Linked DNA regions of Homo sapiens: region 2 is linked to region 1. A link means that fine-mapping ties the variant in region 1 to the expression of a gene that starts in the linked region. Tissue or cell type: whole blood. Region 1 holds a variant in brackets; the other region holds the start of a gene. All regions are shown on one strand. Distances are between the middles of the regions.

The links. PIP is the estimated chance that this variant, and not a neighbour inherited with it, causes the effect.
Region 2: it holds the start of MBD6, and the variant in region 1 is fine-mapped to the expression of MBD6 in whole blood (TOPMed, PIP above 0.99).

The regions. Positions count from the first base shown.
Region 1 is chr12:57,621,698-57,629,792 of GRCh38, forward strand. It overlaps B4GALNT1 (beta-1,4-N-acetyl-galactosaminyltransferase 1), which reads right to left. Exons shown (of 11, transcript NM_001478.5): 7 at 7,351-7,449; 8 at 7,016-7,206; 9 at 6,425-6,565; 10 at 5,921-6,161; 11 at 1,712-5,264. The coding sequence ends at 5,047. It overlaps LOC101927583 (a long non-coding RNA gene), which reads right to left and starts at 206. Exons shown (of 4, transcript NR_120450.1): 1 at 1-206. It also overlaps the pseudogene SLC26A10P. The variant C/T (reference allele first, on the strand shown) is at 3,722.
Region 2 is chr12:57,518,913-57,527,007 of GRCh38, forward strand. It overlaps MBD6 (methyl-CpG binding domain protein 6), which reads left to right and starts at 3,912. Exons shown (of 13, transcript NM_052897.4): 1 at 3,912-4,099; 2 at 5,117-5,180; 3 at 5,368-5,504; 4 at 5,808-5,910; 5 at 6,041-6,203; 6 at 6,436-7,476; 7 at 7,654-8,095. The coding sequence starts at 5,392. DDIT3 (DNA damage inducible transcript 3) reads right to left here and starts at 1,602. Exons shown (of 4, transcript NM_004083.6): 1 at 1,506-1,602. LOC128125814 reads right to left here and starts at 1,568. Exons shown (of 2, transcript NM_001414991.1): 1 at 1,506-1,568. The coding sequence starts at 1,568. MIR616 (microRNA 616) reads right to left here and starts at 347; the gene lies at 251-347. RefSeq lists enhancers at 438-1,399, 1,370-1,499, 1,374-2,573, 1,400-2,359, 2,360-3,320 and 4 more and silencers at 1,570-2,029, 3,744-4,143.

The sequences.
Region 1 (8,095 bases):
CTCCTTGCTGACTGCGCTGCCTCGGAGCAGTCCGGCCGAACTGACCATCTCCGCGCTCAGCCTGGCGCTGCTCGTGCCGGTCAAGGAATTGAACGTGAGATTCCGAGACCGGCTACCCACGCCGATCCCGGGGGAAGTCGTCTTGGTGAGGATGGCCGTGCGCGCCGGCCCCCTGCCCGCGCAGACCCTGCGGTCCTGTGGGAACTGGCCGCTGCCGCCCCCTGGTGGAGTGCAGAGAGGCCACGGAACAGAGGGCCGGCTCACACTTTCCTTGGCCTCCTGCAGAAGGACGCTTTGACCTTCCACAGCCCCCCTCGACACTGTCCCACGTCTCTCACGGAGCACCCCCTAGACCTCTTGGAGTTTCCTCTGCCATCCTACAGCGCTCCCTTGAGGTCTTGCTGGTCACAGCACCTTCTCTGACATCTGTCCTCACCAGGGTCCTTCCCTGTAATTCACAGTGCATCTCCCTCTCCACCCTCCACCGACATTTCTCTCTCTCCCCAACTAAATAAACGTTCCGCGTCTCCACAGATGCCAGTATATCACTAGATATCGTCCAGCTTCCCTCTTTGGAAGGCTCAGTGGCATCTCTTCATATCCACCATCCTTCACAGAAGCGTCCTCTTACTTCCACGGCTCCAGGCTCTGTGGCCTCAGGCATATGTCATCCCTCTTTCCCAGCTCTACACTACAAATCAGTTGTCAGGCCCTCATCCCAAACACATCCCCGCTCCCCCAGGTGCTGGGCTCCTGCAGCCAGCTAGGCCTGCATTATGGTCCTCTCTCATGGTCAGCCCCTTCTAGCTTCTGCCAGGGACCCCATCTCTTCCCATGCCTTCATTTTGCTCTCTTTTTCAGGTGCTTCTGGCCTCCGTGCTCTGCTTCACCTCTTCTGTGGACACAAGATACCAAGTCCAGATAGTGGGGCTGTTGCCTGGAGGGTAAGAGAATGAAAAGATGCCAGCTTTCTCTTCTCCCACCTCTCCCACCCAACACTCCCTCTTATCTCCACCCCCCATTTTCTCTGCCTTCCTTATCTCACTGAAGCACCTAACCCCTCCTCACCATGGATCCCTCCCTCTCCAGATTTCCCCAACCCCTCCTCCCCAACCTGGCTGAGCTGCCCAGGATTCTGGCTGACTCGCTGCCCATTGCACTGGTTAGTTTTGCGGTGTCTGCCTCCCTGGCCTCCATCCATGCAGACAAGTATAGCTACACTATTGACTCCAACCAGGTGGGACTCTGACTGTGGACCCCAACCCTCTCATTTGACTTCCCACCATGCCTTTGTCTCTCCCACTTCATCTCACTGTATCCCTCCAGGAGTTCCTGGCACATGGTGCCTCCAACCTCATCTCCTCCCTCTTCTCTTGCTTTCCCAACTCGGCTACGCTGGCCACCACCAATCTACTGGTGGATGCTGGTGGGAAAACACAGGTAAGAGGGCATCCTTGGATGAGGAGAAAGGATGGGCCATCCAGGCAAGGTGGCGGTGGTGGAGAAACAGGTGGAAGATGGCTAGAATCCCAGGTGGCACCTATATAGAGAAGACTGGGGATCTGTGAGAAAGGGTGACTGAGGGGATGGAATTATAGATAGGAGAGATGGAAGATAACAATGTTCCAGTAAGACCTTTGTAGGCTCTAAGCGCTGAAAAAGTTTATGGTGCCCCAGGTGTGGTTCAAAATAAAAACACAAAACTATAAAATAAACTTAAGAGATAAAATTCTTATTTTTTTCACACAATGACATTGTCTTTTAAAAGGAATATCACATATCAAAGTCTCCCCCTAATATTTTTGGTTTCCCTTACTTTGCTGGTGCCCTAAACACATATACCCTGCTTATAGGGTAACCCAACAGTGGCTTTTAAGGTGGAGGTGGGCTACAAAACTGGGGAACTTGAACAATGGACATCTACAAGGAGACTGGTGAATAATGGGCATTTAATTAATTGGGGGGAGCGGGAGGGTTAGATGTGAATGGCAGAATATTAAGAAGGGGGTTGTGTGGAAGGAGATTTGGGAGAAGGGAGACTTCCGAGGAAGATTAGGCAGAGTGGGCAGGAAGACCAGCTCTCATGTGGGGGTGGGAGGCTCTCTTCCTTTTTTGCTCCTGTTCCTCCTTTTCTCTAGCTGGCAGGCCTCTTCTCCTGCACAGTGGTCCTGTCGGTGCTGCTGTGGCTGGGGCCCTTCTTTTACTATCTGCCCAAGGTAATGAGCAGAGGAGGCATGAGCATGGCTGGGAGGGGTAGCTGTATTCCAGGACATCGAGGTAGTCAGCCCACCTCCTCTGCCTCAAGGCTGTCCTGGCTTGCATCAACATCTCCAGCATGCGCCAGGTGTTCTGCCAGATGCAGGAACTTCCACAACTATGGCACATCAGCCGAGTGGACTTTGTGAGAAATGCCATTACCCCCAGATTGCCCCCTCTCATCTTGTTAGCATCCCCAGCCTCTGCCCTGAACCAAACCTAATTGTCCTGGTCTTAAGTTCTGCAACCCACCCACTCCCCCAGCAAACATAACTCCTAGTATGCTTTACTCACAGGCAAGGGAAAGGATGGGGTTTGAACCCCTTTGGCCTGAATATTTGTAACTTCCCAACTGGTGCGGGTCATTACATTTGGTGTGTGTCCCATTGAATCAACCCTGTTGTTTCCTTCTGTCATGCTTTCCACTTCTTCCTGGATCATCTCTCCCCATCACTTGCCTTGGTAGTCACTGCCCTGGATCTCTTTACCCAGCAGTGATGGCCTGGCTTTTCTTTTGGGCAATCCACCCCTATCCCTATCCTGCAGGCTGTGTGGATGGTCACCTGGGTGGCAGTAGTGACCCTGAGTGTGGATTTGGGCCTGGCTGTGGGTGTGGTCTTCTCCATGATGACTGTGGTCTGCCGCACCCGGAGGTGGGCATAGAGATGAGTGGAGTTGAGGTCGGGGCAGGGGAAGAGAATGAGGTGCTTGGGGTGACTCTCCAGCCAGGCCAGGCTAAGCTGGAAATCTGGCCCCACCTTCTTCCCTAGGGTGTAGTGCCTGGCACTTGGACAGGCTGAGGGGACAGAGCTCTACAGACCACTCAGAGGAAGCCCCAGGGTGGGTGGGCTGCAGCCAAAGAAGGAAGGGAAGATTAGCCCCAGACATTTCTCTGATCCTTTGACCTCTTAGCTCCTCCAGGTCCCGGGGCTCTGCATCCTGAGCTATCCAACACCACTGTACTTTGGGACCCGTGGGCAGTTTCGCTGCAACCTGGAGTGGCACCTGGGGCTCGGAGAAGGAGAAAAGGTGAAGGAGCTTGGTTTAGGAGGGATGTGGATCCTCAGGGAGTGGGAGGCAGGTGGGTGTTCTGAGGGGGATCCTTGTGCTCAAGGGGTGCATGTTCATGCTGTGTTTCGGGAGTGGTGACTGCCCTTCTTTACTTATAGGAGACTTCAAAGCCAGATGGCCCAATGGTTGCAGGTGAGATGGGGTGACAAGAAGGAAGATTTGGGCATGTTGCATGGTGACACCTGGGTACTCCTGTCTTCTCCCATTCTAGTTGCTGAGCCTGTCAGGGTGGTGGTCCTAGACTTCAGTGGTGTCACCTTTGCAGATGCTGCTGGGGCCAGAGAAGTGGTGCAGGTGAGGGAGAGGGTAGGTTGAGGAGAAACCCCTTAGCATCTCACTCATACCCTCTGATCTGGGACTTAACCCCTTTGCCCCATCCCTGCAGCTGGCCAGC[C/T]GATGTCGAGATGCTAGGATCCGCCTCCTCCTGGCTCAGTGTAATGGTGAGATGTGTGGAGAAGAGCGGGGCCCAGTGCCTGGGCAATGACTGGACACCTGCGGTAGGGAAAAGGACCCGGTGTGGACTTAGGGTCTCAGAGTCTGACACCCTCCCCACATAGCCTTGGTGCAGGGGACACTGACCCGGGTAGGACTCCTGGACAGGGTGACTCCAGATCAGCTGTTTGTGAGTGTGCAGGATGCAGCTGCTTATGCCCTGGGGAGCCTGTTAAGGGGCAGTAGCACCAGGAGCGGGAGCCAGGAGGCACTGGGCTGCGGCAAGTGAGGCAGGGGTAAGTGGCTGGAGACCCAGGGAGAGGGGTTTGGGAAAGGGTCTGAGGAAGATCAAGAAGAAAAGGGTGGGGACGGAATGAATAGTAGATTGAAGACCAAATCAGGGAGCCCGGGCTGAGCTATGGGTGAGGAACTGAAGAACTCAGATCCCTAAGTAGGTGGGGTACCCCTGAGAGGACTGCCACATTTCATTAAGGAAGAGGGGTGCCTAATCTATTCCTGACATGTCTCCTCTCTTCTCCAGGAGCTCACTGACCCAAAGATTTGCACCGTGTGGGTCTGACCTCATCATGTGGAGTGCAGAGGGCCCTGATGACATGTGTGTGATGAGGACCATGACCCTTGAACCCCCTTACCTAACGTAACTAATAAAATGAAGCTGAGAGCTTTGGAATCCATGAAGTGAGTCTAGGTGTTTGCACAGGGACTCTGGTGCCCCTTCTTTTGTGCCCACAGCATTGCAGAGACACAACTAAGAATGGCTTTCACCAACCACCAGCCCTCACCCCAGCCCCAGAGCCACAAGTTCTCTCTGTGGGGGTGGGGCTGGAGCAGGTACACAGAGTACTGGATCTGAAGATGCAGATGAGGGGCACAGTCTTGGGATTATGTGTTGGGGAACTTCCCCACCCCCTCGGTCCCAAGATGAGAGGACAGTGTTTCCACCTTAGGTTCTTAGAGTCCCTCTGGGCTCTTTGGCACTTGGAAAGTGATCCCCCCATTTCCTGCCCCATGAGAATGGGCAGGGGGAGGACTTGGCACTGGCTGTGGGAGAGGTTATGGCTCCACCAGGCCTCTGGGCACTGGAAAAAGGAGGGGTGTCACCAGGACAACCCCTACTGGGCATCAGGTTCTGAAAAGGAAGAGTGAGGAACTAGAGGCTCAGGGACAGCCAGTAGAGTGCTCACAGGGTGGTGGGGTTTGTTGGAAATTCCTGGCAGGGACAAGGAGGCAGGCCCAGCCTGACAGTCAGAAATCCCCAGCGGGCCATCACTGGGAGGTCATGCACTGCAGCCGGTGTTTGAAGAAGAGCAGCCGGTGTTTGGCCATCTGGCTCTCGTCCAGTGATCCTGGGTAACGGTACCGGGCGTAAGTCTCTGCTCCGGCATCCCTTGATGTCCAAGGCAGCTTCAGTTTGGATGCATGATCCACCACGACGTCGGAGCAGGAGCCAACCCGAAGGGAACCAAGCCCATCCAAGAAGAATTCTGGGGGTGGAGGGGAGTACACAGTGAGGGATCCTGAGGGTGCAGAAGGCCGACTGGTAAGGGAGAACTCTCAAATTTAGGGTGTGGAAAGTGTGTGTGCAAAGGCTTGTTTCTAAGGACCCTGAGCATGTAAATCAACTCCCTGGGTCTCAGTCTTACTCTTGTGTAAATGGAGTCAATATACTTGTGCTTTGAAAATCGAAAAACCTACCCCTACTCCCAGAGGTTAAATAAACGCCAGATGGGTTGCACCGACTGTGGTCTGAACTAGGGGAAGCCCTGGGAGTAGAGCAGGGGTGGCGGGAACAGTGATGGGGAAGCTTATGGGGGCCCAGCGGCTGTGCTGGGAATGGAGATTCAACATGGCACATGTATACACATGTAACAAACCTGCACGTTGTGCACATGTACCCTAGAACTTAAAGTATAACAAAAAATATATATATTTATAAAAAAAAAAAAAGAGTATGCGGGGCTGGGAGAGGGTGGGAGCTGTCTCTCGCCCAGGTGCAGGTCTTGGTAAATCACTGCAGAACTGTTCTGGGGTTCCCGCTGGCGGCTGGGCGCGGGTGCAGCCTAGGAGGAGAGGCGCGTGACCGTGCGCCAGCTCCCCGTGGGGCTCCTGCCAGGGTCGACCGGGAGGGGGTGCCACTCACCCAGATGAGCCACGCGGCTGAGGCGGGGGTCGAAACCGACCTCGCGCACCTTGTCAGTCCGCGCCAGGAAGAAGTTAACCACGCCGTCGGTGACCACGCAGCCTGGGAAGCCGACGAGCTCGTGGTGGAAGCCGCGCCTTTGCCGGAGGCAGTTCCCGAGGCCTGGGGCGCCGGGCTCCACGCTCAGCAGCTGCCGATAAGTGGTGGCAAAGCCGGAGATCTCGCGCACCGCGCCCCCCACCTGCAGGGAGAGGGAGGTTGCCTCCAGGCGGGCCTGGGATAGGGGACCCGAAGGGGTCAAGGTCTGCGCTCCGGTGCCTTCGGGGGTACCCCTGCCCCATCCTCTTCCGCTTCACCCCTGCAGGACCCAGACAGTTCCCAGGCCCCACTTCGTGGTTCTCTCTTTGTCCTAGGGCTGGCCGTTCCTGGCCGCAGCGCCCCCGCTGTGGCCTTAGCCTGTTCAAGGCCCTTCTCCACCCCCACATCCTGCAGCCCCTGCCCTACCAGGTCCAGCGGCGTCCGCTCCAGCACGTCCACAAGCCTCTCCAGCCGCGTCCGCGCCGTGAAGACGAAGTCGTCGTCCACCCACAGCACGTACTTGGTGGTTACTTGAGACACGGCCAGGTTCCGGCCTGCGAACCAGCCCTGGCAGAAAGGTGTGTGTGGTTGGGGAGGCTGCAGAAATAGGACATGGCCCTCTGCCACCTTTCTTTCTCTCCCCCGACCCTTCTCAGCTTGTATTCTTCTCCAGACTTTTGAGTGCTTTCGAAAGGCCAGGAGCTAGGTAAAAGAAATGCAGATCCCCACAGAGGTTCCAAGTCAGTGGTCTTAGAATGCGTTTAATTTCCGTGTGCATTTATTTATTCATTCATCAGCTATTTTATTGAATGCCATTAGGCACTAAGCACCATTCTAAGAATTCAGAGAGAATTTCCTGCTCCCACGAAGCTTACATTCCAGGAATCCTCATGCTTAACAGGCACCCCATGATTCTGAGGCAGGTGGTCCTCGAATCACTACCCTGGAGGCTGCAGATTGAGGGCACACCCCCTGCGGGAGTCCTCTGGCCTGCCGTTCAGCCTGCTAGCTGCACACCTTGCCGAAGGGCATGAGATAGTGTTCCACGTAGGGGCCACTAACGCGCTCTGGCTTGTCGCTGTCGTCAGCGATGACCACGGTAACCGTTGGGTAGAAGCGGCGGATACTGGTGATGAGAGCCCGTAGCCGATCATAACGGAGGAAGGTCTTGGTGGCAATCGTGACTAGAGCGCTGATGTTGTACTGGGCTGAGATTGGGGGCACAGGGTTGGGTGCAGACAAGGAGGGTTGGGAGAGGGGAACAGGTAGATATCCCCTCCCAGGACTGCCCTCTCCCAACTTGCTCCCCACCAAGGCTGGTTCTAATATGTCCCTGCCCCTACCAGCCTCACCTCCCTGGGGTAGAGACCCAGGTGGGTACAGCCGAGGGTTGGGCGGGTGTCTTATGCGGATAGTGAAAGCAGCCTCATGTCCCTCGGTGGAGAACCGGACTGGGAAGAAAGGACATGGCATTTGACCCTGAAGGGTGGGATAACATTCTGTTTTCAGCCAATCAATATTTAAGTGCCTACTCTGTGTCCCACCTTTCTAGGCCTTGGTGGACAAGAACAGAAGGTTCTTACCTTTATGGAACTTACATTCTAATGGGTAGGAGAAAAAACAACAAAGAAAATTTTAAGTAAAAGCTAATCTTTATTGAGCACTTACTATGTGCCAGACCCGTTAAAAAATTACCTTAAATATATGCACTCATTTTATCCCCATGATAGCCCTATTAAGTAGATTCCTACAACAGAAAAAAAAGCTGAGACACAGAAAAGTAACTTGCCACATTTACACAACTATTAAGCAACAAAACTGATAGCAACCTAGTCAGTCTGGTGCCAGGCTAAGTAAATTAAAAAATTCAGATACTGGTAAGTATTGAGTGGAAAATAAGACAAACAAGTAATGTGATAGTGAAGAGGAGGCATTTGAACTGAGATCTAAATGACAAGAAGAAGCCAGTCTGCAAAAATCTGGGGAAGAGCATTCCAGGCTGAGAAAATAGAAAGTGCAAAGGCCCTAAGGTGGAAGCAAACTTAGTGCAACAAACCAGCTTTGGGGAGAAGCAAAGAGGGCTTTTAGGCCTCTTTT
Region 2 (8,095 bases), 100 kb before region 1:
GTCTCCCAAAGTGCTGGGATTACAGGTGTGAGCCACCATGCCCGGCCCTTAACTCATTCTTTAAAAATGAGTTTTTAAAACCTTTGCTTAGAAGAATCTAAACACTTCTAATTCCATTGTTTCCAATCTAGATCAATTCACTACCATCTCTAAATTACTGCAGAAACTTTCTGACTGCAGAAGGTCTTCCCATTTCTTCTCTTGCCACCCCTCCGCAACTCTATTCACCATACAGCAGCCTGAGTGAGCCTTTTAAAACAGGTCATTCCTCTGCTCAAACCCTCCAATGACTTCCTATTTCATGTCATGGAAGTCACTGAAGGGTTTTGAGTGGAGGAATTACCTAAGGTAATTCCTGACCACCTGATGTAACACTCTGACCTCCATCCTGAACATTCTCCATTCCTTTCTCTGCTTTAGCTTTCTCCGTGGCACTTATATTTTGTTTACTGTAGGCCTCCCACTGAGATGATTTTTTCCTCTTGCTCAAGGATGTACCCTGAGCCCCAAACTGTGTGGCACACAGTAGGTCCTCATTAAGTATTTGTTAAGAATGAATGGATAAACTCCCCCCAGTCTCTCTTATAGGGAAGGGGCAGAAGCAGAGTGGCAGCTGCTGATCCCTAGGGGCTAGAGATGCAATATTGCCCGAAGTATTTCTCTGCAGGGCTGTCCTCCCTGGGGAACCCTCCCTTGCCTTCCAGTGTGTGGGACTTGGCTTTCATCAGCAGTAGAGCCTCAGGTCAGAAGGCTGCAGAGCCAAACGGGGCTGGCCTGATGCAATGGTTACACAGAGATTAGCTGGGAGACAGGACCGGGTTAAAGAGGCAGGGACTAATCCCGAGGGAAGGACAATACCCTGGGGAGACCCCAAATGGCCTCCTACACTTAAGAGATCCAGGCTGCTCTCTTGTGCAGGAGGCCCAGAGACCTCTACGGCAAAAGGAAAACACACCACTCCCTGTCCATCGGCACCCCTCCCAAAGGCTTGTGTCTCCTCAAGGTTCCCCTATCCGCTGCAGGGTCCAGTAGCCCCAGCTACCAAGGTGGCCATGCTGACACCAGAGGCACTGAGACTGAGACAGAATTGGGGGTGGGGTAGGGAGAAGGCCCGCTGGTGGCGAAGCGGCGGAAACGGCCTGAGCGATGGTCACCCAGTCTTAGAGCGGGGGTGTGTCCTGCTGACCTGCCTCCCCGCGGACAGGCCTAACGATGAGGCCTGAAGTTGGCTACGGGAAAGAATGAATTTCCCAAGGGCAACCGAGGTCCCTTTGCCCAGCAGCACAGAGCAGGGCCCGTGTTCCGGCTCCGGGCAGGGGTGGAGAGACGCCGTCGTCCGAAGCAATAGGGGTTTGTAAGCACCACCCCAGAATAAGGGACTCTCCCCATTCCTCTCTCGGACGGTCCCTAACTTCACTGTGGAGGAGTGAGGCCGATCCTAAAGAGCGGACGCCCCAACTTTGAGGAGACGGGAGGGTAAAAGGTAGATGGGAATCAGTACTCGCCTCTCTCCTCAGGTTCCAGCTCTGATTTTGGCTCTGTCGCTGCCACCCGCTCATCTTTAACATGATACGCTCAGTGCCTTAGACTTAAGTCTCTGACCTCGGGAGCGCCTGGCTGTAATCTTTTACCATGGCCTTGCCCTCCTCTCAGGGGCGGGACCCCAAAACCTACCAATCAGAAAGTGGCACGCCGGCATTGGCCCCGCCCCGTCCCTCGCATCCGCCACTCAGGAGCCCCGCGGCACCGCCCCCGTCGCTCCCTCTCGCTAGGGGGTCGACGTAGTGTCGGACCCGGAAGTGGCTTTGGGTCACGAGGCTTCACGGAGGAGGTGGGTGAGTCATGCGCGCGCGCGGAGGGGAGTGTAGCGGGGGGGGAGGGGAGGAAAGGGGGGCGGGGATGATGCAATGTTTGGCAACCGGTGTCTGCACGCGCACGCGCAGGGGACACCGAGGGTGGTGGGAGGTGCGGAGGGTGGGGGAGAGGAGAGAGGGCGGGGCGCCAGCTCCCGGCGCCCAACGGCCCCAACGGCTATCAGCCTTGGTCGCCCCTAGTCGGTCGTGAGCCTCTTTGCCGCTTGTCTCCCCCAGAAGCTGCTGTTCCGCCCACCTAGCTTTACCCGCCGTTTTACCCCCACTATAAGGGACTCCCATATTTCTTGGCCCCTCCCAGCTAATGGGCACATAGGCCTTTTGAACTTTTCTTTTTAAAGTTGGTATCCATCCACTGGGATTGTCGACATCTCGAGTCTTCTTAAAGAGGTCTCCTGGCCGGGCTCAGTGGCTTACGCCTGTAATCCCAGCACTTTGGGAGGCTGAGGAGAGCGGATCACTTGAGGTCAGGAGTTCGAGATCAGCCTGACCAACATGGTGAAACCCCGTCTCTACTAAAAATACAAAAATTAGCCGGGTGTGGTGATGCGCGCCTGTAATCCCAGCTACTCTGGAGGCAGAGGCAGAAGAATCGCTTGAACCCTGGAGGCGGATGTTGCAGTGACCGAGATCGCGCCACTGCACTCCAGCCTGGGTGACAGAGCGAGACTACGTTTCACCAAAAACAAAAAACAAAACAAACAAACAAAAAAACGGGGGTGGTCTCCTGTTCTAGCCCCGTAAATCTCCCAAAAGGGGCCGAGGTACTGGAATCCCTTGGTAGTCATTTTCCGCTTCTCTCAGAACAGCGCCCTTGACTTTTACCTTGTAGTTGGTAAGCCCTCAGCCTGCCAGAAGTCATGTATTTTGCCCAGTGGACCCGATTCTGTTTGGCCACCTATTTTCCCCCACGGTACTCCTATGGCTTTCTCCAAGACCCTCTCTTGCTGTACCAGACAGCAAGTCCTGTGACTCCCTGTGTGAGGAGCGCGGCACAGGCCTGCCTCCTAGGTGTTCGGGTCGAGATTTACAGCGGAGTCTCATCCCGGGACGTGTGAGTGCACTTCAGCGCAGGACTGCCCTGGACTGGGGAGACCGGAGCCGCGATTTTAGACTCAACTCCCCATCACTTGCCAAGGGATCTTACCGTCCTTGTTTGTAAATTAAAGATAAAAGTTGTGAAGGTAAAATGAGAACCATGAACTTGGAGGCAACTTGACCAAAAGTAAAACGCACCACCCAGAATGCAAAGTATTTTTCTTGTGCCTTGAAAACAGAGGCCATGTGGTGGCCTGTTACATATCCTGTCATACCCTCATGGGGGCAGCCAGAGTTTAAGTAGAAACTGTCACAAGGCCGGTTGTGACTGGAGTGGTGTGGCAATGACAGGTCTTTGGTTAGGCTGCTCCGCTGCTCCACACCTCCATTTCCTCTCTGAAAATGGGGGTAGTGTGGAGGGTGGACCAGATGGTCTCCCCTGGCCTAAAGACAGACCAGGTTGTCAGTGACAGGCAGAGGTCATGTGACTTGACAGGCTGAGGTCGTGTTGTGACATGTTGACCTGGGGAGGCGGGTCAAGTCCCAGCACACTACCCGGGAAGCCTTTGGGGCGGGGCAGGGCAAGTCGCGACTTTCATCTTTCGGGGCCTGGCCCCTCCCGGACCTGGCATTCCTGGTTCCCGCAACAGACTGTGGCTTTGGAAGGGGCCCCTCCCTGAGGAGGGCTGGGATTGGCCACCAGTGGCCTGGGAAGAGGCGCAGATCCTTCCGCGGAGGGCGGGGGGGCCGCGTGGGGTGTTTGTTCTCTTGGGGATTAATGGGGGGTTGTGGGGGAGGGGTAGGCGCGCTCCCGCATGCGCACTGCAGCCCCTCCAGTTGGCTCGTCGCTGTCCGCTGGGCGGGGGCCCGGCCCCGCCCCTCTCCCGTCCGGGCAGCGGCGGAGGCGGCGGCTCCTGCGGCGGCGGCTGCGGCAGCGACGGCGGCGGCGGCAGCGGCAGCAGCCTGCGCAGTGCCTTCTGGGAACGGAATCCCCAGGGCTGCCCCTGGCCCCCATGGCGCATGCGCGGGAGGCCGCTCGGTGATCCGCGGCGGCGGCAGCGGCGCTTCCTGCTAGGACCGGCCGGGGCCGTACCGGAGGCTCGGGCTCCACCGACCCTCCTCCCACCCCCTCCCACTCACCCTCTGGGCCGCGACTGCGCAGGGCGGGGCCGGCCGAACCATGGGCCGCGGTGAGTGCGGGGCCCGGCCCCCCCCACCCTGCCCCTCCCCCTCCCGTCCCTACCCTCTGCCCCCTCCGCGTCCTCTCGGCCCCTTTCCCCGGCCCCATCCCCACTCCCCCGCCCTCACCTGCCCCCGCCGCTTCTCCCTCTCACTGCCAGACTTCTGCCTTCCTCACCGCCCTCCCCTCAGTGCTTCGCCCACCCTCCGCCCGCCCTCTCCCCAAGTTCCTTCCTACTTCGTGCGCCTTCCCCTCCTCCTCAAGCTGAGGGAAGCAGTCTGGGTGACAGGGCGCCTTGTTGTGAGAGGGAAAGTTTGGAAGCCGCCAGTGTGGGGTGGGAGCAATGGTGAGGCTGGGGAGGATACCTGCAGGTTGGAGGGGCTTCCCCTTCTATCGGAGGACAGGCTCTCTTGGAGATAATCGGAAGCCAGTGGAATAGGAGGTTCTGAATCCCTTTGCCGTAGGCTTGAGGGAAAATCAGGAGCTTCCCAGGATCCTGGGAGAAGACTGAGCTGTGATCCTCACCTCTTAAGACCCGAATGAACTATATCAGCGATTGTCTGATGGAGCAGGCATGGGGGGAGTTCTGCTGGTACCACCCCAGCGGGCAGTTGGGCAATTGCCTGGTGACCTGTGGGGCAATCTGTACTTTTTATATCATCTTCCTGGGTAGAGAACAACAGGAGCCAGACACTCTGGGAAACTTCCTAGTGGCCTAGCATTATGGGAATGTGCCCATACTCCTGGTTGAAGTCTTCTACTCCGAATGGAGGGAGGCCTTGCCCTTCATATGCCTAAGAATTGGGCTAGACTTTCTTGGTCCCAGGGAGCTGAGGTTCTGACCCTCTGGTCCCTAGGGACTGGGCTTGGAAAGGATGGTTGTAGACTAAGCCAGCAGATCCCCGAGATCTTTATAGGTGCTTGCCTCACATTGTTAAGGATCTTTCTTTTGAGAGGGTGCTGGGCTGTGCTGCTCTTTAGAGTTGGGCAGACTCCTGACAGTCCCATCTCTCTACTTGCGTTGCAGGTGTGGGCTAAGCTGGTGGCCCCGGCTTTAGACTGGACCCCACAATGTTTGCAGAGATGTTCAGGTAGCTGTGGTGATACGGCAGAGGACTCCTCAGTCTCCCTCCCAGCTGAGGGGTTCCCCTTGCTCCTCTGGGGCTTCCCCTGAGTTTTCTTGGGTCTCCCCACAACCTTTGCCTTCCTGGAGTCCTCTCTCAGGTACTTCGCTCAGTTTAATCCTCCTAGTGCCTACATGGATGTCTGTGTTATCAGGCACGCGGGAGCTGATTACACACAATGAATGGGGGCAATGAGAGCAGTGGAGCAGACAGAGCTGGGGGCCCTGTGGCCACATCTGTCCCCATCGGCTGGCAGCGCTGTGTGCGAGAGGGTGCTGTGCTCTACATCAGGTACGGATCTTCACAGGTCCCCAAGCTCTGCCACTCCAGTTGCCCAGGTTTTCTTTCTTCCGTTTCTTCTCTCAGCTCAGCTCTCTGGTACCCGATTGCTCTCCTCTCTTCCCCTTCCTTCCTCAGCCTTTTTGCTTTCTGTAGCTCTGGGCCTTTGAATCCATTCTCCCTTTTTCTGTGTCTTCCCACATTCCTTATCCTCTGTTCTTCTAGGAGGATCTGTAACTTAAGCACTGTGCTTTAGGAGTATTGCCTGATTCGCTGCCAGCTAACCCCATGTCCTCTGACCCTGTCCTCTCGCAGTCCAAGTGGCACAGAGCTGTCTTCCTTGGAGCAAACCCGGAGCTACCTCCTCAGCGATGGGACCTGCAAGTGCGGTCTGGAGTGTCCACTTAATGTCCCCAAGGTCAGAGTGGTGAGGGGCGCCTGAGAGTACAGAGATAAGCTAAAAGTCTTAATGCAAATCACTGACTGAGGTAGCCCTTCTCACAGGTTCCAGCCCCTCAGGGTCCCTGTCCTTGCTTTCCACCTTACAGGTTTTCAACTTTGACCCTTTGGCCCCGGTGACCCCGGGTGGGGCTGGGGTGGGGCCAGCATCAGAGGAGGACATGACCAAGCTGTGCAACCACCGGCGGAAAGCTGTTGCTATGGCAACTCTGTACCGCAGCATGGAGACCACCTGCTCACACTCTTCTCCTGGTGAGTCTTCTGCCACTTTACAGAAGACCGAGGAAAACCTAAGGGCTTGGAAGGCTGGTGGTGGGAGGAGTTCCTTGAGAGGGAGCAAAGAGAAAGGGGAGTGGGTGGGGAGCTGCATGTTGAAAGGAGGGCACAGGGAGGTTGGGAACTTGTGGGAGATGGGACTAGAGAAGACAAAAGAGTTTTTGGAAGGGGAGCCACAGGCTGACCCTTCATTTTTCATTTATTGCAGGAGAGGGAGCGAGCCCCCAAATGTTCCACACTGTGTCCCCAGGGCCCCCCTCTGCCCGCCCTCCCTGTCGAGTTCCTCCTACAACTCCACTTAATGGGGGTCCTGGCTCCCTTCCCCCAGAACCACCCTCAGTTTCCCAGGCCTTTCCCACTCTAGCAGGCCCTGGGGGGCTTTTCCCCCCAAGGCTTGCTGACCCAGTCCCTTCTGGGGGCAGTAGCAGCCCCCGTTTCCTCCCAAGGGGCAATGCCCCCTCTCCAGCCCCACCTCCTCCACCTGCTATCAGCCTCAATGCTCCCTCATACAACTGGGGAGCTGCCCTCAGATCCAGCCTGGTGCCCTCTGACCTGGGCTCTCCTCCGGCCCCTCATGCCTCCTCCTCACCACCTTCAGACCCTCCTCTCTTCCACTGTAGTGATGCCTTAACACCCCCTCCCCTGCCCCCGAGCAATAATCTCCCCGCCCACCCTGGTCCTGCCTCTCAGCCACCAGTGTCTTCAGCCACTATGCACCTGCCCCTGGTCCTGGGGCCCCTGGGAGGGGCCCCCACGGTGGAGGGGCCTGGGGCACCCCCCTTCCTTGCTAGCAGCCTACTCTCTGCAGCGGCCAAGGCACAGCATCCCCCACTACCCCCTCCCAGCACTTTACAGGGCCGAAGGCCCCGTGCCCAGGCACCCTCAGCTTCCCACTCCTCATCACTTCGTCCCTCTCAGCGTCGTCCCCGCAGACCCCCTACTGTATTTCGATTGCTAGAAGGGAGAGGCCCTCAAACCCCTAGACGGAGCCGTCCTCGGGCCCCTGCTCCTGTCCCCCAACCCTTTTCTCTCCCGGAGCCATCCCAACCAATTCTCCCTTCTGTGCTGTCCCTGCTGGGACTCCCCACCCCTGGCCCTTCCCACTCTGATGGAAGCTTTAACCTTTTGGGGTCAGATGCACACCTTCCTCCTCCCCCAACCCTCTCCTCAGGGAGCCCTCCCCAGCCCAGGCACCCCATCCAGCCCTCCCTGCCTGGGACCACCAGTGGCAGCCTCAGCAGTGTGCCAGGTATGTGAGTATTGTGGAGCCCTTCCTCATCCTGGCTGGAAAGAGGCAGCCAAGGCATTTAGGGGAATGTTCAGAGAGCTCTTTGAGGGTTTTCTGGGTTGGGGGCAGGGAGGTTGGCTTCTTTGGATGATGGGAGAAAGGGCCTCCCTTGAGCTGAATTTCTCTCCTCTTTTACAGGTGCCCCTGCCCCACCAGCTGCCTCCAAAGCCCCAGTAGTCCCCAGCCCTGTGCTTCAAAGCCCATCCGAAGGACTGGGGATGGGGGCAGGCCCGGCCTGCCCTCTGCCTCCCCTGGCTGGTGGAGAGGCTTTCCCTTTCCCCAGCCCTGAGCAGGGCCTGGCACTGAGTGGAGCTGGCTTCCCTGGGATGCTTGGGGCCTTGCCTCTCCCTCTGAGTCTGGGGCAGCCTCCACCTTCTCCATTGCTCAACCACAGTTTATTTGGTGTGCTGACTGGGGGAGGAGGACAACCTCCCCCTGAGCCCCTGCTACCCCCACCAGGAGGACCTGGTCCTCCCCTAGCCCCAGGAGAGCCTGAAGGGCCTTCGCTTTTGGTGGCTTCCTTGCTTCCTCCACCACCCTCAGACCTTCTTCCACCTCCTTCAGCACCTCCCAGCAACCT